Linked DNA regions of Homo sapiens. The protein of the gene in region 7 interacts with the protein of the main gene of each other region in a pairwise test. Each region holds a gene or a part of one and is shown on either strand. Other genes may lie near its edges.

The links.
Region 1: the proteins of ACOT8 (region 7) and HAO1 come close enough for resonance energy transfer, tested with the Homo sapiens proteins (one large-scale study listed by BioGRID).
Region 2: the proteins of ACOT8 (region 7) and CFTR interact in binary tests that used the Homo sapiens proteins (3 or more experiments, as listed by UniProt).
Region 3: the proteins of ACOT8 (region 7) and PEX5 interact in binary tests that used the Homo sapiens proteins (3 or more experiments, as listed by UniProt).
Region 4: the proteins of ACOT8 (region 7) and PRDM16 interact in a two-hybrid assay, tested with the Homo sapiens proteins (one large-scale study listed by BioGRID).
Region 5: the proteins of ACOT8 (region 7) and REL interact in binary tests that used the Homo sapiens proteins (3 or more experiments, as listed by UniProt).
Region 6: the proteins of ACOT8 (region 7) and DHRS4 come close enough for resonance energy transfer, tested with the Homo sapiens proteins (one large-scale study listed by BioGRID).

What each region holds. Positions count from the first base shown.
Region 1 is NC_000020.11:7,901,713-7,906,279, reverse strand, and holds part of HAO1 (2-Hydroxyacid oxidase 1), read left to right. Parts: coding exon 1-126; intron 127-4,567. UniProt on the Homo sapiens protein: Broad substrate specificity (S)-2-hydroxy-acid oxidase that preferentially oxidizes glycolate.
Region 2 is NC_000007.14:117,590,824-117,595,390, reverse strand, and holds part of CFTR (cystic fibrosis transmembrane conductance regulator), read right to left. Parts: intron 3,458-4,567; coding exon 2,734-3,457; intron 462-2,733; coding exon 333-461; intron 1-332. UniProt on the Homo sapiens protein: Epithelial ion channel that plays an important role in the regulation of epithelial ion and water transport and fluid homeostasis. Mediates the transport of chloride ions across the cell membrane.
Region 3 is NC_000012.12:7,202,557-7,207,123, forward strand, and holds part of PEX5 (peroxisomal biogenesis factor 5), read left to right. Parts: intron 1-55; coding exon 56-148; intron 149-875; coding exon 876-995; intron 996-4,567.
Region 4 is NC_000001.11:3,428,566-3,433,132, reverse strand, and holds part of PRDM16 (histone-lysine N-methyltransferase PRDM16), read right to left. Parts: intron 2,262-4,567; coding exon 2,025-2,261; intron 1,168-2,024; coding exon 993-1,167; intron 1-992. UniProt on the Homo sapiens protein: Binds DNA and functions as a transcriptional regulator. Displays histone methyltransferase activity and monomethylates 'Lys-9' of histone H3 (H3K9me1) in vitro.
Region 5 is NC_000002.12:60,887,830-60,892,396, reverse strand, and holds part of REL (proto-oncogene c-Rel), read right to left. Parts: intron 715-4,567; coding exon 572-714; intron 1-571. UniProt on the Homo sapiens protein: Proto-oncogene that may play a role in differentiation and lymphopoiesis.
Region 6 is NC_000014.9:23,959,509-23,964,075, forward strand, and holds part of DHRS4 (dehydrogenase/reductase SDR family member 4), read left to right. Parts: intron 1-393; coding exon 394-495; intron 496-4,567. UniProt on the Homo sapiens protein: NADPH-dependent oxidoreductase which catalyzes the reduction of a variety of compounds bearing carbonyl groups including ketosteroids, alpha-dicarbonyl compounds, aldehydes, aromatic ketones and quinones.
Region 7 is NC_000020.11:45,850,539-45,855,105, reverse strand, and holds part of ACOT8 (acyl-coenzyme A thioesterase 8), read left to right. Parts: intron 1-1,152; exon of another isoform or gene 1,153-1,183; intron 1,184-4,567. UniProt on the Homo sapiens protein: Catalyzes the hydrolysis of acyl-CoAs into free fatty acids and coenzyme A (CoASH), regulating their respective intracellular levels. Displays no strong substrate specificity with respect to the carboxylic acid moiety of Acyl-CoAs.

The DNA.
Region 1 (4,567 bases), about 38 Mb from region 7:
TTGGAGACGACAGTGGACTTGCTGCATATGTGGCTAAAGCAATAGACCCATCTATCAGCTGGGAAGATATCAAATGGCTGAGAAGACTGACATCATTGCCAATTGTTGCAAAGGGCATTTTGAGAGGTTCGTTTATTTCTCTACTTGAATTCATACTGACTTTGTGATCCTTTGTGGATACGTTCATAATATTCTTAAAGGAAAATAACAAGGAAAAATTAACATGGAAATTGAGAGAGACATTCCAACTCTCAATTCTCTGTTTTCATGTTAGTGAGTAAATATTTCTTCATTCTTAGGTAATATTCTGAAGCAGAGCTAAACTCTCATGAAGCACAAAGTGAGCTTTTTCAAAGAATTGGGATGCTATTGCCTTATTTCAGAGCTGTTACTGAATCATGAAGCCTGGCAAGATCTTGGTAGAACGTCATGAGTTCATTGCTTTACCTGAAAGCTGCAACAGTTGCTCTCAGACCAAAGAGAAGCCCCAAGGAGATATTATGACAGACAGACTTGTTTTAAGAGCTTTTACTCTTTTTCTTGTGCTCCCTCCAGTACAAATGGCTAGGACTAGTTTTTGAGTGTGGTCAAACCCACATCACCTCTCTGAAGAGAATGGCTGACTAGTATGGTCAAATGCTCAATTATCAAGCCATGGGTAATAAGAAACTTAACTATTTCCTCCAGCATCCCCATGTATTCAGATCCCACAGGGAGATACCAATGACTATAATAATTTTGGAGTGTAAATGTGTTTACCCACAAAGGCAAGAAAACCTTTGTGGTATATAACCTTTGGTTATATAGATAACTGCCAAAAACTTTTTTTTAACTGAAATGTTTGAGTAAGTGACTTTAAGATGAGAGTCTGTCCATTAATGTATGTCTATTAAATGACTTTGAATCAAAACTTTTTCATAGATTTTACTTGAACATGTCTGAGTCATGTGGTCCCTATTTATAAAGGTCTACCTACTTTGACTATTTAATTTTATGTGTGAAGAAATGAGCTTATAAAAGTAAAAGAAATTAAGCCCAGTGCAGCATTTAAGTAGTGGAGATATGTTTAAATCCAGATGTTCTTATTCTGTGCTTAAACAAATTAAATTAGTTTTTTAAATCGATATATAATAGTTGTACATATGCATAGAGCATATAGTGATGTTTCAATACCTACAATGTGTAGTAATCATATGAGGGTAATTAGCATATCCGTCATCTCAAACATTATTCTGTACTTCTACAAAAATTGTTCACTGTTTCCTACTAATCATTGTCCTAGTTCAAAATTTTTGTGGATTATACTTCAATGAATATGTATTGGTTTGGTTTACAGACACCTTTAAATAATGGTTTCACTTCCTTTACTTGCATCCATGTTGTTATCCATGATTACTAGTGCTACTTACTGTGGCTGCATTCAACTGTGGGGACTAAATAATATTAACCTGAAGGTTCTGTGCCATTCATTTATTTATTCATTCATCCATTCTCTTATTCACTCACTCATTCATTCCATAAATATCATAACTACTGTGTGCTAAAATATTTTTATGAAATAAAATAATTTTAGATCCTTGGATAAAATGACAGTCTATTCTTGTAGGAGACAGTTATATAAACAAGCATTTTGGGTGCAATAAAATGTTGCATAGAAATCTATGGGCATGGCTTAAAAAAGAATATGGGCAATAATGTAAGAGTGGGTTAGAAAACACTTTTCAGAATGAAAGATGATGCTTGAGTTTTGCCATGATATCAAGCCAATAGACTCTACTTCAGACTGAAGTACTGGCAGAATAAAGCAATTATGCATAACAATTTATAAAACACATAAGCCATTTAGAGAATTTAGACTTTAAAGTGGCTGAGAACCACTGAAGTGTCTTGATCAGAGAAGCAACCTCATCATATAAGCATTTTACAGAAATCATGCTTTGCACAACGGACCTAATGGATGGAGGTGGCAAAATTGTGGTCAGGGAAGACATTTAGGAAATGTTGTTGCCCAGAAAAGAGATAATTGTAGAGATGACCTAGAGTAATGGCAGGGAGGGGACTGAGAAGGTATAATTAAATTAGAAAATTAAGACAGTTAATCACAGAGACGGCCCAGGGGATCTGGCTTTAAAACACTAAGGAAGAATAGAATTTTAGTCTTGTTCCATAATTGTTTCAAATAAGGAACAAAGAAGGAGGTCATTTTATTTTTTAACCACCTTTTCAATCTAGGATTTCCAGTGTATATCATTTTCTACAACTTTATTCCTTAAGATATGTGCAAATCAATTGAATTAGATTTACTATCACATGTTATGTTGAAAAATATTTTGGTTTCTAGATCTTCATTCTGTTATCACTTTAGCTAGGACCACTGCCACCACCACCACCACCACCACCACCACCACCACCACCACCACCGCTACCACAATCTCCATTACCAGGACAACCACCAGCACTGCTGCCACCCACCACCACTGCTATCACCATCACCACTCCCATCACCATTATCACCACTCCCATTACCACCATGACCACCACCACCACCACAACTACCACCATAGCCACAACCTCCATCAACACCACCATTACCAGGAACAACCACCACCACTGCCACCACCACCACTGCTATCATCACCACCACCATCACCACTCCCATCACCACTATGACCACCACCACCACCAGCGCCATAACCACAACCACCATCAACACCACCATTACCAAGACAACCACCACCACCTCCACCACCACCACCAGTATCACCACTACCACCTCCACCACTCCTATCACCACCATGACCACCATGACCACCACTACCACCATCATCACCACCTCTCTTTTCTTCTCATCCATATGGATTTCTGGTTTGTTTCTAAATATTTTTGTGACATTTTACACATAGTAGATAGCCCAAATATTTATTTACTGAACTTCTTGATGAAAACTATAAGTCTATCTAATTAGAGAAAGCTCAAAAAAAAAAAAAAAGATAAGGAGAGATGGGACATTTGACATTTAAAGGGAAATAACTTATTTATACATGTACAGTTTACATCGTCTACTTTTCTGTAACTATTTGGTTCTTTTATTTAACAAACAAGAATCATCTCTATGACAACAATTGCACCAAGTAACACATATGCTCAATCTGGATCGGAAGGGAGCAGTGGCAGGGCCAGTTCTGGGAAATCCAATTTTCTCCATTTCACAGGTCCTCATGCAGAAATCACATGGATTGACTGAGAGTCACCCATCCTCTTTCATTTTCCTTTTTCAGAAAAGTGCAGATTATATTTTCAGGAACATGAAATCATGAGCAACTGTGAAGATCTAGACCAAACATCTGACTGTCTCACCATTTTAATAATTGTATTTTAATGAATGCAAATTAGAATGGAAGATGTAATCTCTTACTGTGTGTGGTTAAACTGCCCTTAGAGAACTTCAACGCAAGCTCCTAACATGTACTTAAGACAGAATTTGGTCTTTGTCAGAACTCACACTAGCAAACAAATGGCTTTTTTCAGCAAAGGCATGGTGCCTTTTAGAGTTCTTTTCTTTTTCTTTTAATTTATTTAAATTAGGCTGTCTCACTTCTACTGTGGCTTTGTGTTTCTGAGAAACTTTTCTCTAGTCAGCTCTTCATATACAGGCATACCTAAGAGACATTGTGGATTCAGTTCTGGACCACCACAATAAAGCAAGTCACATAATTTTTTTGTCTTCCCAGTGCATATGAAAGTTATGTTTTTGCTATACTGTAGTCTATTTTGTGCAACAGCATTATGCCTAAAAAACAATGTATATACCTTAATTAAAAAATACGTTACTCCTAAAAAATGCTAATGATCACCTGAGTCTTCAGCGAGTTGTAGTCTTTTTGCTGGTGGAGGGTCTTTCCTAGGTGTTGATGGTTGCTGACTGATCAGGGTAGTGGTTGCTGAAGGTTTAAGGTGGCTGTGGTAACTTCTTAAAATAAGACAATGAAGTTTGATGCATCGATTAACTTTTCCTTTCAGGAAAGATTTCTCTGTACCATGAGAAGCTATTTGATAGCATTTTACCCACAGTACAACTTTTTCAACATTGGAGTCAGTCCTCTCAAACTGCCACTGCTTTATCTGTGAAGTTTGTGTAATATTCTAAATCCTTTGTTGTTATTTCAGCAATGTTCACAGCATCTTCACCAGGAGTTGATTCCATCCCAAGAAACCACTTTCTTTGCTCATCATAAGAAGAAACTCTTCATTCATTTAAGTTTTATCTCATGATTGCAGCAATTTAGTCACAGCTTCAGGCTCCACATCTAATTCGGTTATCTTACTGTTTCTGCCACAGCAGCAGTGACTTTCTCCACCATAGTCTTCAACTCCTCAAAGTCATCCATGAGGGTTGGAATCAACATCTTCCAAATTCCTGTTAATGCTGATATTTTGACCTCCTCCTGTAAATCACAAATGTTCTTAATGGCATCTAGATGGTGAATCCTTTCCAGAAAGTTTTCAATTTATTTTGCTCTTATTCATCAGAGAAATCATTAACTATAGCAGCTATAATGTTATTAAA
Region 2 (4,567 bases), on a different chromosome or scaffold from region 7:
ATTAAAAATCTATTAAAAACTCTTCTTATATTTGTATTTAAATATATTTTATATGTAATATGAAATAATAAAATATCAGTAGTGGTTCTACTTGTTGATTTTTCAGAAGCTAAGAACTATATGAATCTATACCATTATATACTGTAAAATCACAAATATATGTAATATATACATATATACATATAGTGATATATGTGTGTATATATGCATACTTATACATGTATACATGTGTATATATACATATTTATGTGTGTGCATATATATGTATACATCCCCAAACTATCTTAATTTAACTTTAAATCCAGTAATACTTTACAATAGAACATTCTTACCTCTGCCAGAAAAATTACTAAGCACCAAATTAGCACAAAAATTAAGCTCTTGTGGACAGTAATATATCGAAGGTATGTGTTCCATGTAGTCACTGCTGGTATGCTCTCCATATCATCAAAAAAGCACTCCTGAATAAAAGAATTATGGCTATTACAATAAGACAGTACAGTTTCATGCCACCATTGTGGTTTTATTTTTAATATATGAAAATAAAAGAATAGTATTACTTGAATCTAAGTGTATTTTAACAAATATAAATCATTATAAATGCCATGTATGATGTCATTCTATAGCCAGAATAATGTCTACTGGAGCAACACAGCTTTATTAAAAATGAGAAACATCGTAATTTTTCAAAATTCTAAAAATGTATCACTGATTATATAACTGTATTATTATTGGACAATTTTACCATTAAAGGCTTAACAGTGGCATACCTTTTATCAAATGAATGATACCATCTAAATGAAGTTTCCCAGAACTCTCTTTGATTTAACCTGTTTCTTCAGGGGTCCATGGACAAGTACAGTTCAGTATACTTCTAGCTATAAAGGTCTTCCAATAGACTGAAAGCTCATTTGTGTTTGAACATTTCTTAGTAACTTAGGACTTTCTCTCTTTCCAGCTGTGATTTAAATTACATAATTCTCATCCTAGGCATATTCCTCTAGAAATCTTTGTCTTTTGGCATAGAAATACATTTCAAAAATTTGAAAAAGAGAGATTCCAGACAGTCCAAAGGAAAAAGAGTTTTGTTTCTCACAAAATCAACAAAACTCATGGGAAAGTGCTATGAATCACAAAGAAGGGCTCCTATGGAATTGGGATATAGTGCACTGGTTAGGAGTATGCATTTTTTGAGTCAGACAGATCTGGATTTGAACCCAACCTCCACCATTAACATCCTAGGAGCTGCTTGAATTCAAGCATGTTGCCGAACTCTGAACTTTAGTTTCCTTATCTGCAAATGTGAAAAATTTTAAATACCTTCCAGGGTAGTTGTGGGGACTAAATATATGCCACCTAGCACTAGATGCAATCCATTAATAGAAACTATTATTAGTCAAGGATATCATTCTTTACAACTAAATTTTTAGGCTCAGGACTGAGAAATTCATTTAGATTGATATTAAACTATATAGATGGGCTGGGCGCAGTGGCTCAGGCTGGACGTGGTGGCACACGCCTGTAATACCAGCACTTTGGGAGGCTGAGGTGGGTGGATCACAAGGTCAGGAGTTCAAGACCAGCCTGGTCAACATGATGAAACCCCTTCTCTACTAAAAATACAAAAATTAGCTCGGCATGGTGGTGCATGCCTGTAATCTCAGCTACTCAGGAGGCTGAGGCAGGAGATTAGCTTGAACCCAGGAGGCAGAGGTTGCAGTGAGCCGAGGTTGCACCATTGCACTCCAGCCTAGGTGACAGAGCGAGACTCCATCTCAAACAAACAAACAAACAAACACACAAAAAAACACTATATAGATGAATTATCATTTAGGAAACCTTCATAAAGTTTAGAAATACTAAAATTACACACTTTAGGGATCTATTTTATTCCCTCATTTTACAAAGAAGGAAACTTCTGCCTACAGATGTTAATGGCTTGTGTCTTGTCAAAGGTCATATTATTCACAAATGATCTATACTATTAAACATATCAATTCATTACAACCCTGCCCATGGCTCATTTCATCCAAGGCATTAAGTTTTCTACTAAAACAACAAAAACTCTCCTTTTTATATTATTTCCTGTTTTAAAAATAAAATGCTTTTATTCTTAAAACCTAATAGAACAAAATTTCTGTCTGAAGATTGGCACTAGTACATGTTAAGCTTATATACATTCTCTAAAAGAAATCTTTTCAGAAACCCAATGTATAAAGCAAACTCACAAGATAAAAAAAAGCCCACACTAGCTAAATTCAGGCAAGACTGATATACAAACCAGAATGTGAGTTAGTCCTATCAAGAGGCTAAATGTTTATATACCTTATATATGCTACTTCCATACAGATTATTTTGCGAGCTATAAATAATGAAAGCTACTATTTATTTATACAGTTATTTATACTGCACCTCTTCCCACAGAGGGTTCAAGATGGTAATAAAGCAAATGCTTTCTAACTTATAGTCACAGTTATCACTGGCTTAGTAGAGGACCAAAAACTAAATCCTTTCCCATTTTATGGGAAGAGATATGTCCATTGCAAAAAGAAATCATTTGTTATTTTACATTTTAACGTTGCTTGTATAATTAATGAACTTCATACTTTCTGAGTTTTAAGATACACCTTATCCTAATCCTATGATTTTAGTAAATTTTGTTACATGCTACATATTGCATTCTACTCAATTGCATTCTGTGGGGTGAAATACCCCCAAGCGATGTATACCTACCTTTAAGTCTTCTTCGTTAATTTCTTCACTTATTTCCAAGCCAGTTTCTTGAGATAACCTTCTTGAATATATATCCAGTTCAGTCAAGTTTGCCTGAGGGGCCAGTGACACTTTTCGTGTGGATGCTGTTGTCTTTCGGTGAATGTTCTGACCTTGGTTAACTGAGTGTGTCATCAGGTTCAGGACAGACTGCCTCCTTCGTGCCTGAAGCGTGGGGCCAGTGCTGATCACGCTGATGCGAGGCAGTATCGCCTCTCCCTGCTCAGAATCTGGTACTAAGGACAGCCTTCTCTCTAAAGGCTCATCAGAATCCTCTTCGATGCCATTCATTTGTAAGGGAGTCTTTTGCACAATGGAAAATTTTCGTATAGAGTTGATTGGATTGAGAATAGAATTCTTCCTTTTTTCCCCAAACTCTCCAGTCTGTTTAAAAGATTGTTTTTTTGTTTCTGTCCAGGAGACAGGAGCATCTCCTTCTAATGAGAAACGGTGTAAGGTCTCAGTTAGGATTGAATTTCTTCTTTCTGCACTAAATTGGTCGAAAGAATCACATCCCATGAGTTTTGAGCTAAAGTCTGGCTGTAGATTTTGGAGTTCTGAAAATGTCCCATAAAAATAGCTGCTACCTTCATGCAAAATTAATATTTTGTCAGCTTTCTTTAAATGTTCCATTTTAGAAGTGACCAAAATCCTAGTTTTGTTAGCCATCAGTTTACAGACACAGCTTTAAGATATAAAAACATATAAATATCAATTTTATAAATACTTTATTGCAATATGTCTCGTATTTTAGCATTTTGTTAATGTTTTATTGCATATAATCTCTATCATACAATTTTATTATATTTTAAATGATTCTATAAGTACTCTGTAGTAATTAAATTGGTACCTTGTGAATTCTGATAGCATGAAATAACATGCTATATTGAAAAGTTGCATGTTAACAGACTGAGAATGAAATTAAATTTCCTATATTAAGTAGATATTTGACTTTGAGCAAATCATTTATCCTCGGGGTCTCTCAGTTTATTTATCTAGAAAATGAGGAAATTATTAGATGATCTTTAAGGTCCCTAGAGATTTGTACTTCATTTCTTTTAAATGTCAGAGCTTTGTTGCTCTTTAAATTTTCTATTAATTTCTTTTTTACATTTTAGGTTGACCATCAATTTATTTCTCAAGTGTTTACATTAAGACTAATCTGTTTCACTAAAAATAAAACAGCAATAATAACAACTGAGAATTCGATAATTAATTTGACTCTCCTCAAATAGAATTTTAATCTATTCTAGAAGTAAATCCTGACTAGAATCATCTAAGACATATCAGTTTTTTTAGGCATTAAAATGTCATATATCATATAGAAAGACACATTGTTCTAGATTATACTGTAACACACTAACACAATACAAATGTAGTAAAGTTTATATTGATAGAAGTTACTTTTCACAATCTCAGGGTTGAAAAGATAGTATCTTGGATATTAAATTTAACTAAATTCTAAGAAAGGTACTTCTAGGAATAACCCAGCCATTTTATATACATATACATCTTTATTGCTTAAAGTCTTTATTTTTAGAAGAGTATAATAACTGTTCTCCTAATAAACTACTTGATAGTCCATTAAATCATTTTGAAACTTTGAAATCAAGCCATATAACTGACTGTCTGTCTGTCTAGGGAATTTCATGTACATTGGACCCTAACAGGAGTTCCAAGGAAATATAAGTCCTGAGCTCTGTGTGACTGAGGAGGAGATCTCCAAGGAAGTATTGAGGTAGATGAGTAGTCTAAGCATATTAAACCAGTAAAACACTTAGCATATATATTTTCT
Region 3 (4,567 bases), on a different chromosome or scaffold from region 7:
GTCTGATGGATAGAAAGTTGGTGGTAGTGGTACTGACCATCCTTTTTTGTCGCAGGGTACATCAGATGCCTGGGTTGACCAGTTCACAAGACCAGTAAACACATCTGCCCTTGATATGGAGTTTGAACGAGCCAAGTCAGCTATAGAGGTGAGAGCAGATAGTGCAGGAGCAGACACCCCAAAAGAAAACACTCCTTGGAGTGAGTGGGTGTATGAACATCAAAGATGATGCAAATTGTATTTCATAGTGGACCTGGATCATCTGTGTCAGAGTTGCTTGGGGATGGGGTGGGTGCTGTTGAAAAATGCAGATTTCTGGGCCAGGCATGGTGGCTCATGCCTGTAATCTCAGCACTTTGGGAGCCCGAGGTGGGTGGATCACCTGAGGTTAGGAGTTCGAGACCAGTCTGAACAACATGGAGAAACCCCATGTCTCTACTAAAAATACAAAATTAGCGTGGTGTGTTGGCGCATGCCTGTAATCCCAGCTACTTGGGAGGCTGAGGCAGGAGAAATGTTTGAAACTGGGAGGTGGAGGTTGCAACGAGATGAGATCACGCCATTGCACTCTAGCCTGGGCAACGAGAGTGAAACTCTGTCTCAAACAAAAAACTAAACTAAACTATGCACTGCACTGCACTGCACTGCACTGCACTGCACTGCACTACATTACATTTCTGGCCATCACCCCAGACTACTAAATCAGTATCTGGGGATAGCATCTGGCCATTTGCATTTTAAAAAACTTATTCAGATGATTCTTAAACATATTGAAATTCAAGAACTGCTGCCTTAGAGAATCCCAGCAGAGCTGAGTGTGGGGTGGGGTGGTCATGATGGATCTCCTTTTTCTATCTGCTTTCCCTTCCTTACAGTCTGATGTCGATTTCTGGGACAAGTTGCAGGCAGAGTTGGAGGAGATGGCAAAACGGGATGCTGAGGCCCACCCCTGGCTTTCTGACTATGATGACCTTACGTCAGCTACCTATGATAAGGTGAGGTAAAAACTCTTAGTTTTTCAGGTTCCAGAACTTCCTTCTTTTTAACGTCTTTCCTTTAATCCTGAATTTGAAGGGTGCTTTTAAGTATTTTCTTGAGTCCCTTTCCACGAAAAGAAGTCTGAATAATTCCCTTGCCCTTCCTCTTCAGTGATTGAGTATAAACTTTATTCTTGGGATATAGATGTTAATGAGACTATCTTTGTCAATAACGACAGTCCAGTACATAACACCTGTGAAGGAGGTTTGCACATGCTTGCTGCATTAAAAGCACAGAGGAAGTAGCTCTGCTTGGAGGTCAGATTGGGAGCTTTTTGAGAAGACTGCTGACTCCTTTGGTGGGGAGTGTTAGTGGACAGACTATCCCTTTGCCTCCACATCTTAATATCTGTTTACTTTTTAAACTCACATATTCATTTTAAGTTCTTATCTTTTATAGGTAGTAGCCACTTGCCCTAATTTAGGGTTTTCAAAGAATTTATATTAGATAACTTAAATATTAGGGAAATTTCTTAGTAGTATGAAAGATGATTGCATTTTGCCTATAGCATGTGCTGTTGACTTAGAAGCATATGTTACTTCTGGGGTCTTACTGAAAAACAAATCTACCTGTGGGTTGTAGGATATTTGGGGATGTGTTTAATAACTGAGCTCCTGAGTTGAAACATGAAGAGGGGAAAGAATCACTTGGTTTTGAAAAAAGGCAAAACAGGAACTGGGGATGTGAGTAGTGATGTCTTTTTCTCAGTTCAGATCTGGTTGGGAAAGTATTGTGGGGCTGGAACCAGGGCCTGAGATGCAAACCAGGGTGCTGGAGATGGATCTTGATGTAATAAGGGAGCTATGCAAAGATGGGAAGATGCAGTTCAGAAAAAGGCTAGAGTTTGAGAGCCAGTGAAGAACAGTATTAGGAAAAATATGATTTTGCTTATTATTCCAGTCTGATCTGGATTTTTCTAACTATCCTGTGTGATATAAGGGAAAAGACAGCTGGGACCTTGCCATGTATTTCACTAGACTATGAGTTCATTGTATATAATTTTGATAAGGAAGAACTGAAGGAAATATAGATAACACTTTTGTTATTATTTTGTATTAACAATTTGATAAGTCACATAGGCCCCATCAACTTATAAATGGAAAGTTGTACATTTATGTAAAAATGTCCATGCTTTTCATACATATAGACATAATACTAGTTTTGTATGAGCAGCATTTTCTTTTATCATTTATTACTCTCGTATTTATGACATGCTGGCCAGAATACATTTTTTTTTTTCAGACACATAGAACAATGTGACAAATTAGAAAGCAAATTTTTTTTTAGAAAAAAAATCACATTTGATCAGGTTCCAAGAATAGAAATGTGGAAAGGATAGTCTTTTCGATAAATGGTATTGGAGAAACTGCATATCCATGTGCAAAAGAGTGAAACTGAACCGTTACCTCACACTATGTACAAAACTTAATCCAAAATGGCTTAAAGACCCAAATGCAGTACCCAAAACCGTAAAATGCCTAGAAGAAAACATAGGGAGAAAGTTTCTTGACATTAGTCTTTGCAATGATTTTTGGGATATGAGCTTTTGGTGTCATATCCAGAATACATTTTTTAATTAAAAACTTTAAAAGTATGTTTGTAGATTCTTGAGCCCTACTTGATATCATTGATACTTTGGGATATTGCAAAATTAGGACTAGAAATACTTGCATTAATGTTCCTCAAAAAGTGATGTAGTAAGCAATTAGACAGTATCTGGCTTTAAGCTAATATTGAATTCCATGTCAATAGAACTTTTTAAAAACAAAGGACTTGACTCTTGATTGTTACATAAATTCATGGATCTCTTTGAATGCACTGTTTGTTTATTGATAGCCCTTATATTTTCAGAGACAATTTACATTGCAGCTCAGGCAGATATTAATATACTATTATGATAAAAGAGAAGTATGTGATGGGACAAACTCTTTGTAGTGATCATTTCTGCAGTTTGATCCTATGAGATTTTGGAGCAGACCAGACCGTGTATCAGATAAAATTAATGACTTGGGTTTGGCTTTTCAGGATGTAACAGTGAAGCCAAGCTTATCCTGTGTTCTGTGGGTTGTTGAGGGATCCCCCAGAGTACTCTTTTTCCATCATCTATGCAAATATTCTAATTTTGGAAAATTCCTCTTTGATCAGCAATTGATGAGACTTCAAGGAGGGTAGATAATATGGATGAGAGGAAACTTAGAGAATCCTGTGGTTGCAAGATGGTGGCATTGAGTTGTTGTATTATCTAATGAAGACACCTGAAGAGCATTCGCATCACTTCTGGCTGTCATATACAGGCCATCATATCTTAAGGAAGTATCTAGAGCAGTGAGGATAATAGCTATTTACAGATAGTATCTTAAGCTTTTTGGTAAGGCGTTGGTGAAGATTCCCATTTGATGTTCTCAATGGCTCTGAGAGGCAGGAATTACTTTTATTAGGAAACTGCATTATAGATGACAGTAATCTCTGTTTTCTGTAGAGTGGCTTAAAACACGTATTAATGATGAACAATAGTTGAGGTTGAATGCAGAAGGATTTATTTTATTGAACTGTAATAGTCTAGGGCAAGGGCCAGCACACTGGCTTGTGGGATAAATCTTTATGTTTTTAGTGATCCACTAGCTGAGGATGGTTTTAACATTTTTAAATGGTTGGAGAAAATCAAAAGAGTAATACTTTGTGACAAGTGAAAATTATATAAAATTCAAATTTTAGTGTCCATAAATAAAATGTTATTGGAAGACAGCCGTGCTCATTTGTTTACTTATGTCTGGCTGCTTTCGCACTACAACAGTAGAGGTGAGTAGTTGCAGCAGATCCACGAAGCCTGAAATATTTATTATCTGGCCCTTCGCAGAAAAAGTTTGCTGATCACTGGACTAGCGTCATTTTCTGCCTTCTTAGTTTTTATATTATGCAGAGATGTCCAAAAACACACTTGTTTTCAATATAAATATACTTTCTATACATTTATCTCAAATCTACTATAATATGTCTTTCTTCTTAAACCCCCCATTGTAATTATTTAATTTTCATTTGTGACAAATAATTTGCATCTGATCATGACTTAGAATTTTGCTGGTAAGATTTAAGTGTTTTTGATTCTTTATCATTTTCACAATAATAATGAAAAAGGGCCTCATGTCTTTATTTTGTACAGTTTTATCTGAATTTATTCTTAACTGCATTTAGAAAGACCTCCACCTGTTGTTTTGCATCTTGTTTTCGTTCTGGTGTATTATTTTATGATGGTAACTACTCTCCAAAAACGGACTTTTTATTTGCATGTCCCAGATTTTGCAGCTTACTAGTGACTTCCCCTTTACCTCATTTCTTCTCTGCCTAGTGTAAAATGCCAGTTGACAAAGCTTTGCAGATAGTATCGTAACTCTTCTCTAAAGTGAGAAATCCTCAGCTGGAAGAGAATGGTGTCTTTCTGAAGTATTCTCTGCCATCTGGATTTTGGGATCCAGCTTTTGCTTACTGTCAGATACAGATTAATATTCATGATTATTAAGAATGAAATCGG
Region 4 (4,567 bases), on a different chromosome or scaffold from region 7:
ACCCCTTCCCCCTGTTTCCTCCACCTGGTGATCAGCAGAAACTACAGACACGTGTCTGGTTTGGGACGGCCCTGGGAACTGGGGGTCAACAAGAGCCACCCCTGCCAGGGGATGTCTGTTTTGGTGACCGTGGGGACACCAAAGAGCTGCCTCTGGGACAGGGATGTGCAGCGTTTCTGGGCCAATGGGATTCTTAGGAAGTACAGATGTGTTTCCAGGCGTTAGTTCATGGGACATCCTTCTGCCCCCAGCACAGGGCAGGTGGGGATGGGACCTGGGGAGCATCGTGTGTGGGTTAAGGGCAGGGAAGGTGGGGAAGCCCAGCACTGTCCTACCCGAGTTAACACTCCAGACAGAATTAGTAAAAAGACAAAGACAGACACGCAGACGGCTTTTGCTGAGACCTGGGGCGGGCCTGTTCCCTCTGGGAGGGCTGTAGAGTGCTGAATGAGACCCTGAGTCCCTACAGACTGGAGAGAAATGCGGGAGCAGGGCCCTGGGGCCACCTACCCTGAGGAGAGAAGCCGAGAAGCGCCTGGGGCCAAAACCCTGGCACCCTCGCTGACCTCATTGCTCCAGCTGGGAAGCAGAGACTGCCCGGCTGGACAGCTCTTCCCCCGGGAAAAGCCCGGGCTGCAGGCCACTGGGGCCCAGATCAGAGAGGGAGGGAGACGAAGGCGGCTGGGCGGGCCAGAAACCTGCTCACAGACCTTTCCCACTGAGGACCACAGGAAGGTGAGCTGCCCGTGTCCATGAGTGAGCTCCCTCGTGAGGGTCCTGCCAGGGTCATCGGCTCTCAGCCCCTCCCTGCTGCGCCCCAGCTTGCGGGAGGGCGGTGGTCGCTGGGGCCTCTCTGGAGGATGCAGCGTGGGGGCGTTTGCGTGACCAGAGCTTCCTCAGGCCTAGGAGGGCCACGGCGGGAGAGGAGTGCTGGCTGTCCTCTGGCTGAGGAGGCCAGGTGGGGTGGGGGAGGGGCTCTGGCGGGTACCTACCTGGTTCTTAGCCTGCCTGCACAGTGTATGTTTTAAAGCCTCAGAATCTAAGGTGGAATTAAGCACATCTTTAACTTCAAATGCTTCCTCAGCTGCTCTGCGGAGGTCCAGCCCCTTCCCAAAAGTCGGCATCGGCTCCAAAGCTAACAGACCGCCTTCGTGGTCCTCAGCACACCTGCACCAATGACCGGGGAGAGGGAAGGCCTGCTGTCAGCAGCCTGGCCTTGGCCGCCTCTCTGATGCTGCAAGCCCAGCTCCGGGCCTGCATGCACGCCGCTGCATCTCTGCCAGCCACATGCACAGGGAGACAGACACACGGACACACAGACGCCTGGACGGGAAGGCACACGGATGCAGGAGAGTGACGGACAGAGGTCAGGGAGGGGGTGAGTGCGTGCACACGCATCAGGCAGCAGGCAGGGGGCTCAGGTCTTGCCAGTGGAGGGTGGAGAAGAAGGCTTCAATTCTCTAAGACCCCAGGCAGCTCAGAGAGGCCCGGGGCTCCCTCTCCCAGGACTCAGGGGCAGCATCCAGGCTGGAGAGGAAGTGCCACCTCCGAAGGGCCTCCCCAAGGGCATCTGGGAATGCTGGCAGTGTCGCCCAGGCCCGATATTGGTGGCGAACACTGAGGACATGGGGAAGTGGCCCTGGCCGGCACAGAATGGTGGGTGCTTGGCCCCCGTGTGCCCACGGCCCTCTAGTGGCTGCACGCGCTGTCCCAGGCTGACAGGCAGCTCTGCTGCAGGGCCGGGGGCCTCCATGTCTGCTCAGTGCAGGGAAATGCCTTCCCCTCCACACTCTGCTTCCAGCCTCCAGGGCCCCTGGGGGTGGGTGGGGGGGTTAAGGGCCCCTGACCCCGTTGCCCCTGGCCCAGCCTTGCCCTGGCCTGTGTGTGGAGGCCCTGAGGTGGCTGTGCTGGAGTAGGGGCTGAGCCAGGGATGGGCTCACGAGTGGCTGAAGAGGGAGGTCCCCCTCGTGATGGACGCCCACGTTCCCTCCCTGCCCCATCCTGGAGCACACGGCTGCCCCCACCTTCGGGTGTGGTCAAAGCCCACGGCCAGGGAGGCGGCTGGCTCCTCATCCTCCTCATCCTCGTAGGCGGCCTGGGGCTCGGGTGCGGGGGACACGGTGTCATCCTGCGACTTCCCGGCCAGGCTGTCCTCATCGTCCTCCTCCAGGTCATCGTCGTCCTCCTCCTCCACGTCCTCCTGCTTCTCACTGGCTAGGCCTGGACACTGGGCACTGCCGTCCACGATCTGCATGTCCGCCCTGAAATGATGCAGGAGGAGATTGACTGAGTTTGGGTGTCTCTGTCCTTCCCATGGACCCCCAAAGGCTGGTGACTCCGCTCTGCCCCCACTGCCTCCCCCGACAACACTCAGCCCCCTTCCTGAGGGAGCTCCCGCGGGTCCCTGGGCCCAGCCACTGACTCTGCAGAGTGAGAGGCACGGAGGCCTGGGGGCGATCCCGGGAGAGGAGGGCAAGCGCTCGGGGCGGTGGGGGCAGGGCAAGGCCCAGCAGCAAGCTGCTATGGCCGGGAGGACACCAGGGCCGGGGCGGTGTTGGGGTGGAAGCAGTGGGCAGTCCTGTGGGGAAGCTGGACCTGCACTGGCACGGGGGTTGGGCAGTGCACGAGGGGCACCCTCAGGGCAGACTTCAGGGGGAAGGAATTCAGGCTGACAACTCGAGGACGTGGGCACTGGCCCGAGAGCCGGGAGCCCTGGAGGGCTCTCTGGGATCTGGAGAGTGAGGGCCCAAAGCCTGCTGTGAGCAGTCTGAATGCACCAGGACAAGCTTGCTTCGGAGCCTGTGGGGGGACTCTTCTGCAGCCCAGGGCTCTCCTGACTTCCCTCAGGGTCACTGCAGCCCGGCAGGACCCCTCCACTCCGGTTCCTCAGTATTAAATAAAAAAGAACAAAGCGTGCATGGGTGTGGCTGGGCATTCTCATTTCTTTCAGGAAGAGCCACTAGAGTTTGGCTCATCTTCATGTTCACGACCAAGAGCTGTGTCTTGGGTGGGCTGGGCCCCAGGGGAGCTGAGGGCCCCCGGGCACATGCTGGACATACTGGTAGAGGGGCCCAAGCAAAGGGCAGGGCACGCAGTTTCTGGACTGCCCATGCCCAGAGCCCCAGGGCCACTCTTCCTTGTCCTCACTCCGCCCGGGGGCACTGCCTCCCGCTGCCCTGGGAGGTATCCACGGTGTGGGTGAGATGCAGGGGTCCTGCTCTTGGCATCCAAGCAAGAAAGTGACAGCGTCTCACGGCGACCGACCTCCGTGTCTCGGACTCGCCTGTGTGCACGGGAACTGGGCTTGGGGAGGCCACAATTTCCTGGCTCTCCACAGATGGGCCACGTGTCTATCTCTTGTCTTTCTGCCTTCCAGGACGGACAGAACCTCACCAGGTTTCAGGGCTTGAGGAGAGTTCCTCGGTCCTGGTCGCCTGTGTTGGGGGCCAAGAGCGTCCTGTACACACACCCATCTCCTCAGCCACGGAGCTGCTGGGATCCGGGTCCTGGTTCTCACCCTGGTTGTTGGTGAGGTGCCCTCGGGTGGGGTTCTGTCTTTGGGGCCTGTGCCCTCTCGATGACACGAGGACATACCCCTCCCTGTCCACTCTGAGGACGGGATGAGATGGCGCAGGGTGAGAGCCCAGGCTCATCACATGGGCATGTGCTGTGAGATCTCATCTGGTGGCCCCACGTGGGTTTGCATGGGCTTCCCACCAGCTGGGGGCAGGGACTTTGCCCTCTTTATGTCTGCTGCACACCCCCCATGCACAGAGTATTTGCTTTTTAGTGTTGGGGAGCGGAGCATCCGGCACGGACACAGAATAGGGCCCAGTGGCTGGTTTGGCTCCAACAGGGAGGACAGTCAGTTTCCCAGAGCTGCCCAAACCAAGCCCCACAGAATGGGGGCCTGAAGCAACAGCCGTGGACGCTTTCACAGCTCTGAGGCCAGAAGTCCAAGATCCAGGCGAGGGCAGGCCGGGTTCCTTCCAAGACTCTGGGGGAGAATCTGTCCCTGGTCTCTCTCCAGCTCCCGCTGCTGCCGGCCCTCTTTGGCCATCCTTGGCAAACCTTGGCACTCTTCGGCCCTCCTATGTGACCCTTGGCCCTCCTTGGCCATCCTTGGTGACCTTTGTCCCTCTTAGGTGACCCTTGGCTGGGAGGCGCATCACCCTGACCTCTGTCTCCATTTTCCCTTGGCCTTCTCCCCTGCGTGATTTTCTCCAAGTGCCCCCTTTTTAAGAGGCCGTCAGTGCCGCTGGATTGGGGCCCACTCTACCCAGTGTGGCCTCTGCTTAATCCCTCCTTAAAGACCTTATCTCCTAAGAGAGTCCCATTCTGAGGTACCGGGGGCTGGGACTTCCACCTGGGAATGCTGAGGGACATGATTCAACTCAGGGGTTCACGGGGCTGCAGGACCAGGACTCCTGACAGAACTGGATCCTTCCTGATGGCGGAGGGCAGGAGCTGGTTCTGCAGGAGGCCCAGGGAACGTTCCCGCCACCCCAGGGACTGGCTGCCTATGTCCACCTTGCCCTGTTCTCATTTTCGTCAGTGACGCAGGGGC
Region 5 (4,567 bases), on a different chromosome or scaffold from region 7:
TTTACCAAAGTCATTTTTGGTCAAAAGCTTTTTAAAATTTATGCTAATGTGAAAAAACTGCATTTATAAAGTGGTATTTCAAATCAGTCAATGACCCAGAGAATCAGAGACAAGCAATAAAGTTAAGAAAAAGGAGAAAAAAATGTTCTAGCCCTAAGACTAGCCAAGAAGAATTATGATTGAGTTCTCAAATCCATGTTTAATCTACAGAATAATATCACTCACCTCTGCAGAGAATGGGTTTTCCTTATTATCTCTGTGTTCCATGAAAAAGAACATGATCCAAAAGTTGCCAGTGTACTCTCAACATTGAGTCGCTCTACTTAGGTTAATACACAAGCACCATAGAACTATCTGCAGTGGGGAAGACTCCATTTTATATTTAAGAAATGTCCTTAGACATCTATCTAATAGATGTCTTTTTGACAGATCCGTTTAAAAAAAAAAAGGAAAAAAGAAAAAGATAAACCTGTGGAGATGACTGTGAAGAAACTGGCCCTTTAAAATAATTGCTATAGCTAGTATATGAAGCAACTAATAGTGAGATAGACACAGAAGAAGGGTCTATTACCTGGATAGAAGGGTATGTTCGGTTGTTGTCTGTGCTGTGCTCCCCTGGAATGCTGCCTGCTGATCGCCCTTCACATTTGTATCTAAAACGCATTCCCCTCTGCCTGGGTTGTTCAATTATCTCTATATACGGGTTATACGCACCTGAAAAGTTTTTAAAAAGGAGGAGGTCAGTGAGATTAATATAGCAATTAATAATGGATTTTAACATTCTGTTTTTTTTATAACAGCAGACTAAAACAAAGATTTTTTTCCTCCTAACATTAAATAACAAGACCGAAATGTTATCTTGGAGATTGGCTGGGAGAGGCACCTTTTTTTCCCATTCAAATTGAGTCCCTATGTAGTGTCAAAACAAGTCATTCAAACCATATTGACTGGTTAGCACTTTATAGCTTAATATCTATAGCTAACGTCAATATGAAGTTCTGAGATAACCACTTCAGAGATATCTGCCTCCCACGTGAGACCTAGCAGAAGGGTTTCCCCCAAGATTCCCCAAGAAGGGTAAAGAAGGCAGTATTCAGAAGTAAAATATCACACTCCTAAAGTGAGTTAAATATATTTAACTGCTTGATTTTACATCATATTCATAATACTGAATGAAAAGACCATTCACTGAAAATGAAAATGCATTTAAATCCTTGCAGAAGCATATGTAAGTTTTTTATATCTCCATTCAAATATTAAAGGACTTACACACAGTATATCAAAACAAGCCCCAGGAGGGACTTTAGGCTCAAAGAATGTGCAATCAGTCCCATGCAAACCTTTTCTAAAGACATAATAGAGAAAAAAAAGTATTCACTTTCTATAATAACTAAAATTCAAAATATGCATCTGCAGAATGAACTGCTGCTACATATAATAACATGGACGACTCTCAAAATGATTATGCTGAGTGAAAGAAGTTAGACCAGAAGAGCACATACTGTATGATTCCATTTATATGAAACCCTAGGATATGTAAAGTAATATACAATGAACGATAGCAGATCACTGGTTGCCTAAGAACAGGGATATATGGTGGATAGGAAAGGCAGGGGGGACATTATCTTGTGATGATGATTCCAGGGTTGTATACATATGTCAAAACTTGTCAAATTGCATACTTTAAAAGTACAGTTTGTTGTACATAAATTATATGTCAATAAAGCTATTTAAAATGTATGCAACTTTACTTTTATTATCCAAATTGTGGGGGAAAAGGTAAATAGACACTCAACTGTACTTGCAAGTAGGGGAGTTAATAGGGGTGTGAAGATGTTTTCCATTAAAAAATAATAATAATGTGTCCCTTAATCACTTTAGTGCTGACTAAGGCTTATCCTGTTAGAACGCAAGCAATCCTGAGAAATGGTAACACAGTGGGCCTTATCAGAACAGTATGGAGAAGAGGCCTTTAGAATCCTACCCCAGCTACTTCTTAACAGTAAGACCAAGGAAATGTGATTAAAATTAAAAATCTCTTAGTTTCCTCCTCTGTAAAATAGGAATAATCATAATAGCACCTACCTCATTGGGTTGTTGTGAAGATGACAGATTATATGTGCTAAATTCTTACGAAGTGTCATATATACATACACATTCAATAAATGTTGTCTACGTGAAAAAATGCTCATCATCACTGGCCATCAGAGAAATGCAAATCAAAACCACAATGAGATACCATCTTACACCAGTTAGAATGGCGATCATTAAAAAGTCAGGAAACAACAGGTGCTGGAGAGGATGTGAAGAAATAGGAACACTTTTACACAGTTGGTGGGACTGTAAGCTAGTTCAACCATTGTGGAAGTCAGTGTGGCGATTCCTCAGGGATCTAGAACTAGAAATACCATTTTACCCAGCCATCCCATTACTGGGTATATACCCAAAAGATTATAAATCATGCTGCTATAAAGACACATGCACAAGTATGTTTATTGCGGCACTCTTCACAATAGCAAAGACTTGGAACCAACCCAAATGTCCAACAATGATAGACTGGATTAAGAAAATGTGGCACATATACACCATGGAATACTATGCAGCCATAAAAAAGGATAAGCTCATGTCCTTTGTAGGGACATAGATGAAGCTGGAAACTATCGTGAGGACAAAAAAACCAAACACCGCATGTTCTCACTCATGGGTGGGAATTGATCAATGAGAACACATGGACACAGGAAGGGGAACATCACACACCAGGGCCTGTTGTGGGGTGGGGGAAGGGGGGAGGGAAAGCATTAGGAGATATACCTAATGTTAAATGACAAGTTAATGGGTGCAGCACACCAACATGGCACATGTATACATATGTAACAAAGCCGCACGATGTGTACATGTACCCTAAAACTTAAAGTGTAAAAAAATAAAAAATAAAAAAAAATGGTGTCTATTATTTCAGATGCTTTCTTGAAAACAATGATTTAGTGATACTATGGTGGTATCCCAACTGTCACTCTAAAGGACCTTATAGAAGAGCAAGGCAAACAACATATATTATTAGACTACAGAAGGAAGGAAAGCACTAACAAAATTCTGCGGAAATAAGAGCGAAAGAGTCAGGAATGCCCAACTGTGTCAGTGGAAAAAGAGCGGTTAATGAAGCAAAAGAGCGGAGGAAATGAAGAGGAAAAAGGTAGGTATTCTAGGGAAAAGGGAACAGTGTGTCCACAGAGGAGGGTTTATTTAAGAATCACCAATGTAAATGGAACACACTTTCTCTCTTAAAAAGAGAACTAAAAGTCAGAGCACACTTGGCAATGTGGATTTCATTTTATGTGTGATGAAATCAATGAATATTTTGATGCAGGCAAATCACATGATCAGATTTGCATTTTAGAGTAAAAGTTTTAGTCACAGTGAACAGATAGAAAAAAGAAAGCAATGTCATCAGTTTAGAGACCACTATAATAATGTGGGCAATGATGAGGGTATCTCTGATATATGGCAGTGATAAGATGAATGAAGGATTATTTAAAAGATAAAATTGACAGCACCTGGTGCCTGAACAGTAGGGTTAAGAGAAATTAAAGAATCACTGATAGCTCAGAAATTAAAGAATCATTGATGATTCCATGGCTTCTACTTTGGGTTACTGAATAAAGTATTACTGTAACTTTCAATTTTATTCTGTATGGTGTAAACTCCCTGTGTTTGAATCTACTACCTATTTGTTTATTCAGAAGATGAAGAGCCAGAGAAAACTGACTTTAACCTAAACAAGTTCATAATCCTTATTTCAGTTTTACTCAAAAACATAAGATATGCAGATGAGTATTTCACGATTTTATCCTTGCATATTTTAAAGATTTCAAATTCACATTGCAATTTCAAATATTTCATACCCTTATATATCCTTGTAGGAGTATTTAAGAAAGTATATTTTCCTCTTAAAAACTGTTAAAATCAACATTACTTTTTAAGTCACATTTTAAATAATTTATGTGGCTGAAGTAAAGGCCAAATAAATCCCTGCCCACTACTTATTTAAAGGTGTCTTGGTGGGAAACTGATATAAAATGACATCGTTAATGATAAGTGTTTAACTTTGGGAAGAGAGAGTGTGAATAAAACTGCTAGGTTCATAGTGAGCATTCAAATATTTCACTGAGGCTGGGCATGGTGGCTCATACCTGTAATCCCAGCACTTTGGGAGGCCAAAGTGGGTGGATCACTTGAGGTCAGGAGTTCCAGACCAGCCTGGAAAACATGGTGAAACCCCATCTCTACTAAAAATACAAAAAATTAGCGGGATGTGGTGGCAGGCACCTGTAATCCCAGCTACTTGGGAGACTGAGGCAAGAGAATTGCTTGAACCCAGGAGGTGGAGGCTGCAGTGAGCCAAGATTGTACCACTGCACTCTAGCCTGGGTGACAGAGTGAGACTCCGTCTCAAAAAAAAAAACAAACAAAACACAAAAACAACAACAAAAAAACCCAAAACTTCATTGGTTACATGACACTTCTTTAGATTGTTTACAAAAAGAACAGAAAAGTAGTTGTTGAAAAG
Region 6 (4,567 bases), on a different chromosome or scaffold from region 7:
GAACATGCCACTGTGCTCCAGTCTGGATGACAGAGCAAGACTCCGTCTAAAAAAGAAAGAAGCCAACCTTAAATGGTTAGCGGCAGATCTTAGGGTAGTTTTCAAAAAAGATGTTTTAAGAAATAGAAGTTATTTTGACGATAGTTCCTAAGTAGGAAGATTTTGTTGTCATTGTTGTTGTTGTTTTTAATATAAAGATAAGGTCTCGCTGCATGGCCCAGGCTTCTCTCAAACTCCTCAGCTCAAGTGAGCCTCCCACCTTGGCCTCCCAAAGTGCCATGATTACAGGCATGAGCCACAGCTCCTTGCCCAGAAGGAAGTTTTTATCAACATGGGTAAATGCACCTCCCTTACTTACTGCAGCCCTGGTCCAGAACTTACCCCTCTCTCTAGGCTGTGAAGCTTCATGGAGGTATCGATATCCTAGTCTCCAATGCTGCTGTCAACCCTTTCTTTGGAAGCATAATGGATGTCACTGAGGAGGTGTGGGACAAGGTGAGAGGGGATTAAAGCAGGGGGGCCGGGGGGGGCGCCTTGGAACACATTCAGCACAAACTCCATCTGCTTTTAGAATGCATTTCTCAAGGGCAGTGTAAATGTGAGGACTCTTTGCCACGTGCCACACACCTGGAGCACACCTTGCAAAGGGCGGGTGGGGGTGGCTCTATCCCTGCCCTTCTCATTCGTTTCTGCTACTCCTAGTTCTCTCTGCTTCTATCTGCTCTTCACTAGCCACAGTCTGCTCCTCTCCCCAGGCTTTTTCCCTGGCATGCTCTTCTGCCTTGTTGATTTCCAACAGAGACGTAGGCAGCTAATATGCCAACAACTACAACACTTAATTTACACACCCACCTGTCCCCTTTTCAGCTGACAAAAAGTAATTATTTTTTACGAGTTGGGAAATATTAAATGCTGCTCCTTATTTAAAATACTAATTCTGGTGAAATGACCAGTTGCCACTTTATAACATACATCCTTTAAAAAAATAAAATAAAAACCTATATTATTTTCTTCTTAACTGCAATGTCAAGAAAATCTGAGATCCAGATGTCTAAATTCAAGTGGTAGAATATTGGGTTTTATGTGAAAGTGTATAATTACATTATATTCGTAATATATTTCACACACACTCTTTAATTACAAAGCTTTAATTAAAATATTTGTCTTTGTTTATTAAGGTTAATATTCCCACATGATTGGGAAATGCTAATTTTTATGATCTCCCATGGTTCTGCGTTTTACACTGATGTTGTATTAGTCTGTTTTGCATTGCTATAAAGGAATATCTGAGCTGGGCAATTTATAAAGAAAAGAAGTTTGTTTTGGCTTACGATACTGCAGACTGTACAAGAAGCATGGTGCCAGTATCTGCTTCTGATGAGGCCTCAGGAAGCTTACAATCATGGCAGAAGGAAAAAGGGAGCAAGTGTGTCACATGGCAAGACAGGAAGCAAGAGAGAGATACCAGTCTCTTTTAAACAACTAGTTCTGGCATGAAGTAATAGAGTGAGAACTCACTCACTGCCACAGGGAGGGCACCAAGCCATTCATAAGGGATCCACCCTCATGACCCAAACACCTCACACCAGGCCCCACCTGGAACACTGGTGATCACATTTCAACATGGGACTTAGAGGGGACAAACTTACCAACTATATCAGATGTCATCAAAATTTCTCAACACTAAAGTATCAGGTTGCCAAAATACTATGATTTATTTACCAGTGTTTCATACACATAAAGACCAAACTGCCAAAATGTTCTTCAGTGAGCTAGTTTTTGATTCTAGTTTGAGCTAGTTTGAGAGAAGGCTGGGCAACACAGCGAGACCTTTTCTCTATATTAAAAACAACAACAACAACAATGACAACAAAACCTTCCTTCTTAGGAACTATCATCAAAATAACTTCTCTTTCTTAAACCGTCTTTTCTTCAAAACTACCCAGAGATTTGCTGCTAACCATTTAAGTTTGGCTTCTTTCTTTCTTTTTTTAGACAGACTCTTGCTCTGTCTTTTTTCCTTTTTTTTTTTTTTTCCCTCGCTGTGTCATTGAGGCTAGAGGGCTGTGGTGTGATCTCAGCTCACTGCAACCTCAGCCTCCCAGGTTCAAGCGATTCTTGTGCCTCAGCCTCCCAAGTACCTGGGACTACAGGCATGTGCCATCATGCCTGGCTAATTTTTTGTATTGAGATGCGGTTTCACTGTGTTGCTCAGGCTGGTCTCAAATTCCTGGCCTCAACTGATCCCCACACCTCAGCCCCCCAAAATATTGGGATTGCAGGCATGAGCCACCACACACAGCCAGATTCTGATAGTCTTTAAAATAGAGGAGCATCATTCATGAACAGTCTGAATAGAGACCATATGAAAGTCAGTTTTAAACTAAGTACAGGCACGCCTCAGAGATATTGTGGGTCTGGTTCCAGGCCACCACACAATAAAGTGAATATTATAATAAAGTGAGTCACATGAATTTTTTGGTTTCCCAGTGCATATAAAAGTTAGGTTTACATTATAATGATCATCTAATGGAAGTCTATTAACTGAGCAATAGCATTATGTTTTAAAATATATATACGTATCTTAATTTTAAAATACTTTATTGCTAAAAAAATGCTGACAATCATCTGAGCCTTTACAACTTGTAATCTTTTTGCTGGTGGAGGATCTTGCCTCAACATTGATGGTGGCTGACTTAGGGTGGTGTTGCTGAAGGCTGGGGTGGCTGTGGCAGTTTTTTCAAATAAGACAGCAGTGAAGTTTGCCACATCAGTTGACTCTTCCTTTCACAAGAGATTTCTCTGTAGCATGCAATCCTGTTTGATAGCATTTACCCACAGTAGAACTTCTTTCAAAATTGGAGTCAATCCTATCAAACTCTACCACTGCTTACTCTACTAAGTACCTATAATATTCTGAATCCCGTGTTGTGATTTCAACAATATTCATGGCATCTTCACCAGAAATAGATTCCATCCCAAGAAACCACTTTCTTTGCTTATCCGTAAGAACCAGCTCCTCAGCCATCTACATTTTATCGTGAGATTGTAGCAATTCAGTCCCATCTTCCAGCTCCGCTTCTAGTTCTCTTGCTATTTCCACCACATCTGCAGTTCCTTCCTCTGATGCAGTCTTGAACCCTTCCACGTCATCCATGAGGGTTGGAATCAACTTCTTCCAGACTCCTGTTAATGTAGATATTTTGACCTCCTCCCATGAATCACAAATATTCTTAATGGCATCTAAAATGGTGCATCCTTTACAGAAGGTTTTCAGTTAACTTTGCCGAGATCCATCAGAGGAATCACTATCCATGGCAGCTATAGCCTTACAAAATGTATTTCTTAAATAATAAGTCTTGGAAGTCAGAATTACCCCCGATCCATGGGCTGCAGAATGGATGTTGTGTTAGCAGGCATGAAAACAACATTAATCTCCTTGTACATCTCCATCAGAGCTTTTGAGTGACCAGGTGCATTGTCAATGAGCAGTAACAGTTTGAAAGGAATCTTTTTCTGAGCAGTAGCTATCAACGGTGAGCTTAAAATATTCAGTAAACCATGCTATAAACAGATGTGCTGTTATTCAGGCTTTGTTGTTCCATTTGCAGAGCACAGGCAGAGTAGATTTAGCGTAAATCTGAGGGCCCTAGAATTTTCAGAATGGTAAATGAGCATTGGCTTCAACTTAAAGTCACTGGCTGCATTAGCCCCTAACAAGAGAATAAGCCTGTCCTTTGAAGTTTTGAAGCCAGGCATTGACTTCTCCTCTCTAGCTATTAAAGCCCTACATGGCATCTTCTTCCACTAGAAGGTTGTTTCATCTACATTGAAAATCTGTTGTTTGCTGTAGCCACCTTCATCAATGATCTTAGCTAGATCTTCTGGATAACTGGCTGCAGCTTCTACATCAGCACTCGCTGCTTCATCTTGCACTTTTATGTTACAGAGGTGGCTTCTTAAACCTCATGAACCAACCACTGCTAGCTTCCAACTTTTCCGGAGCTTCTTCACCTCTCTCAGCCTTCAAAGAATTAAAAATTAGGGCCTTTTACTGATTAGGCTTTGGCTTAAGGGAATGTTGTGGCTAGTTTGATCTTCTGTCCAGAACATAAGAACTTTCTCTCCATATTAACAATAAACCTCTTTTGCTTTCTTATCATTTATATGTTCAGAGAAGTAGCACTTTTAATTTCCTTCAAGAATTTTTCCTTTGCATTCACAATTTGGCTAACTGGTGCACATGGTCTAACTTTCAGCCTGCCTCAGCTTTCAACATGCCTTCCTCACTAAGCTTAATTGTTTCTAGCTTTTGATTTAAAGTGAAAGATGTGTGACTCTTCCTTTTGCTTAAACACTTACAAGCCATTGTAGGGTTAATAGTTGGCCTAATTTCAATGTAAATGTGTCTCAGGGAATATGGAGGCCCACAGAGAGGGAGAGAGATGAGAGAAGGGCAGAGCAGTCAGAACACACAACATTTTTCGATTAAGTTGACCTTCTTTTCTGGGTGTGGTTTGTGGTACCCCAAAACAATTATAATAAAACCATGAAAGATCACTCATCA
Region 7 (4,567 bases):
CTGGCCTTGGGGGCTGAGGTCAAAAGGGAAGAGAGGGAGACTGGAAGACAAGGGGAGGGGTGGCGGACACTACCACCCTAAGAGGTGTCTAGGGTGGAACGAGGTCTGGGGCTAACAATGAGCCTTGGACCTCACACCTGCTGGGACTCACTGGGTACCTGATGTCTGGCTGATAATGACACAAGACTTTGTTGCTTAACTGCTCCTTGTGGGCTTTTGTTCTTCCATTCTTAACATAGCTCCTGGTGCGGAGCGCTGTGCTAGGTTCTCAGTGTGCTGTGACCTCTGTGCTAGAGGTGTGGAGGTAGGGCAGCTTGGGTTGGAGAAGAGAGCACCAGCCTGAGAGTCAAGGGATCTAAGGCTTCTTTTGTCAACTGAGCATAGGGTCAATAAAAACAAACCAAAGATGTAGGGCCTAGCTTCAGTTTTGTCCATAATTTACCATGCAGCCTTGTGAGGTTACCTCCCCGCCCTACAGTTTGGTTTACTTCAGCTGTAAAATGGAGAAGGGTGGGACCAAGGGTATTTTAGTGGGATGATCTCTACAGCTTCTTACAGCTCTGGGGTCAGATAATGTAACTTAAAACCTATGTGTGAGGCCGGGCGCGGTGGCTCACGCCTGTAATCCCAGCACTTTGGAGGCCAAGGCGGGCGGATCACGAGGTCAGGAGATCGGGACCATCCTAGCTAACACGGTGAAACCCCGTCTCTACTAAAAATATAAAAAAATTAGCCAGGTGTGGTGGTGGGTGCCTGTAGTCCCAGCTACTCGGGAGGCTGAGGCAGGAGAATGGTGTGAACCCGGAAGGCGGAGCTTGCAGTGAGCCAAGATCGTGCCACTGCACTCCAGCCTGGGCGAGCACTCCAGCCTGGGCAACAGAGCGAGACTCTGTCTCAAAAACAAAAAACCTATGTGTGGTGGCTCATGCCTATAATCCCCGCACATTGGGAGGCCAATGCGGAGAATTGTTGGAACCCAGGAATTCAAGACCAGCCAGGGCAATAAATCGAGACCTTGTCTCTACAAAAAAATAAATAAAAGGAAAATAAAAGCAAAACCTATGCTAAAAAACAAACAAAAAAAACCCTCACTGTTTTCTTTCCTTCCCTGTTACCCCCAGAGCAGATGCCCTCATGTGTTCTGCGTAGATCCCCAGCTGAGAAGAGTTTGTGGACCTTTACAGTATGTGATTTGTATTAAGAAAACCATGGGGTTTCCCCCTTCATTTTGTAAATATGAAAGTTATCCCTGTAATGGTAAATACACTTTTTCATACTGTCCCGTGTCTCTTACTCCTCATCCCTGAGGAGTATTGATTGGCCCCCCTCTTCTCGGCCCCCAGTCACTGCTATAAAGTATTTGAATACTTACCTTGGGCTCAGCCAGGTTCTTATCTTTATGCTAGTTGGGAGTAAATATGTGCTTTGTTTCTTTAATTTGTTTGTAAGTACCAGCCTTTTGATATTGTAATCCTTCCAGCCTAGTGAAATACCTGGCTGTTTTCTTTTGTGTGGGTGGGGGCATTACTTGAACTCTGAATCTCTTCATCCTGTGATGGAAGAATTCAATGAGTCTTTGCCAGTAAAGTATCTAGTGCAGGGCTTGGCATAATCTAGTTTTCCATAAATATTATTAGTTTTTGATGATTAACTTATGGGAATAATTAAAATTTGCATGATACAGAGCATAGTTGTGTGCATTATCTTGTTTAGTCTTCATAAGTAAACATGGGTGGCAGGCATTCCTGCCATCATTCTTACCTAAGGAAACTGGGACCTGAAGAGGTTTGGAACCAGCTCCCACAGTGCCCAAGGAGGCAGAGCCAGGATTTGAACCTGGTTTATGTGTCTTTGAGTGCCAAACTCTTTCCTGCTTCTTTGCTTCGCTCTTGGGCAATAATTCTAAACAATGAGAGAGCTGCCAGGGTACCCATCCCAGGTTCTGGGGAAAAGATCCTCTTTCTTGGAAAGTCTTCATCCAGGAGCAGCGTGAAATGAGCTGTGTCCAAGCCACCATTTCAAAATAAATAATTATTTGGCCGGGCGTGGTGGCTCATGCCTGTAATCCTAGCACTTTGGGAAGCCGAGGCGGGCGGATCACCTGAGCTCAGGAGTTCGAGACCAGCCTGGGCAACATGGTGAAACCCAGTCTCTACTAAAATACTAAAAATTAGCCAGGCATGGCGGCATGTGCCTGTAGTCCCAGCTACTCAGGAGGCTGAGGTAGGAGAATTGCTTGAACTCAGGAGGCGGAGGTTGCAGTGAGCTGAGATCATGCTACTGTACTCCAGCCTGGGCGACAGAGCGAGACTCTTGTCTCCATCAAAAATAAATAAATAAATAAAAATAATTATTTGTGCCCTTGCTTGTGTCTTGAAAGGCTGCAAGATAGCTAAAATAATTGGTAGTTATTATGGGAATATTAAAAGTCAAAGGACATTAGGCCAGTAGTAATGGGATTTGGGAGAAGCGATCATGTCAAAAAATTTGGCTAAGCCATATTGTTGCAGTTTCATACAAGGTTTAGTTCTGAGCTTCCTGGCTGCAAGGCAAAAAGGGGAGAGCTCTTATCTGTTTGTGGTGTGACTCTGCCAGCTATATCAGATATTAAAACCAATGCTGTTTTTTGGCTGGGCATGTGGCTTATGCCTGTAATCCCAGGACTTTGGGAGGCCGAGGCGGGCAGATCGGCTGAGGTCAAGAGTTCGAGACCAGCCTGGACAATGTGGCGAAACTCCATCTCTACTAAAAAAAAAAAACACACACAAAAATTAGCCAGGTGTGGTGGTGCACACCTGTAGTCCTAGCTACTCAGGAGGCTGAGTCAGGAGAATCGCTTGAACCCTGGAGGTGGAGGTTGCAGTGAGCTGAGATCGTGCTACTGTACTCCAGCCTGGGTGACAGAGCAAGACTCCATCTAAAAAAAAAAAGGAAAATTAGCTGGGCGTGGTGACCTTAGCCCGTGATCCCAGCTACTCGGGAGGCTGAGGCTGAGGCTGAGGCAAGGAGAATTGCTTGAACCCGGCGGCTGGAGGTCGCAGTGAGCTAAAACTGCGCCACTGCACTCCCACCTGGGCGACAGATCGAGACTCCATCTCAAAAAAACAAAACAAAAAAGAGATGTTTCAATTACATTTTAAAAATAAAAGATGTTATGGGGGAGGGGGAGGGTTGGTCCTTGGCCATTTATCAAATCAGTTCTTTTTCTAAAAGCCCAGGAAAGAATGTGAATTAGTTGGGTTTTTGTTTTGTTTTTAGTTTTTCTCTACAGAGGTAAATTTAGAGCTTGAAGAATTCAGAACAAGGTCAGCAAACATTCTAGAAAGGGCCAGATAGTAAACATTTTAGGTTTTGCCAGTGAAAGCAACTATAGACAATATGTAAACAAATTAGCATGACTTTATTACAAAAAAATTGTATTTTAAGGCAACAGTTTCCTCATCTGTACAATGGGGGTAAGAGTGGCTCTACATAGTTATTGTGAGACCAACATGAGAAAACATACCCTCCTGTCCAATGCTGTCAGGCACCCTGCATCACTCCATAATCATTAACTCCCTTCAATATGCCTCAGGGCCTACCTGCTCTGTTCCAATAACAATTTTCAAGAATAGGGCTGGAACTCATTCACACTGAAAGGTAGACCAGAGTACTGAAGTTTCTGTGATCCTCCTCAGGAATCTGCACTTTAGCTTACCTGCAGACCAAGGATTGGATTAGAGGTTTTTTTTTGTTTTTTCCCCCCAAGTTTGGTGGTAGGGAGGAAGACTTCATTCCCAGTGTCTGAAAGCAGACTGCACAAGTAACTTTGTCTAGTGTCTGGACTCTTGGTAAGCCCTTCTCAAATGCCTTTAACCTTGAGGAGCTCGCACTCTGATAGAAGTGCTGCTGGTGGCAGTGCCTGATAACAGAGAGCTGAGCAAGCCAGTTGACCTCAGACAGTGATGTTTATTGCTGTTGATTGAGCCCTGGTGCCTGGTTGACTCCCCATTTGGATCAGAGTGAAGGAAGCAACACTTCTCTAGACCTGCTTCTTTCATCTGAAGGTTGAAAGTCATCCCCAAGATGTCTCATGGCCCAGATGTCAGGGTTCCTCAAGGTCAGCCTGACTCAGACAAAGTGAGAACTTCAGGGAAACCAGGGAAGTTCTCTTCCTCTCCAAATCTTCCCTCACCTGCTTGTTGTTGGCTGCCTTATCCCTGGCCAGTGCCTTCTACTCTGGTGGTGGTGGTCTTGTTGTTTTTGAGACAAGGTCTTGCTCTGTCACCTAGGCTGGAGCACAGTGACGCAGTCATGGCTCACTGCAGCCTTGATCTCCTGGCCTCAAGTGATCCTTCCGCCTCAGCCTCTTGATTAGCTGGGACTATAGGCACATGCCACCATGTCCAGCTAATTTTTATTTTTTATTTTTTGTAGAAACAGGGTCTCCCTGTGTTGCCTAGGCTCTTCCACTCTGCTTTGGAGCAGAGACACCTGACAGTGAAGGACCAAATGGCTTCCATATACATCAGGGGTGAAGTGACTGACAGTGGCCCTTGCCTGGGAGAGGCTGAATATACAAACAGAC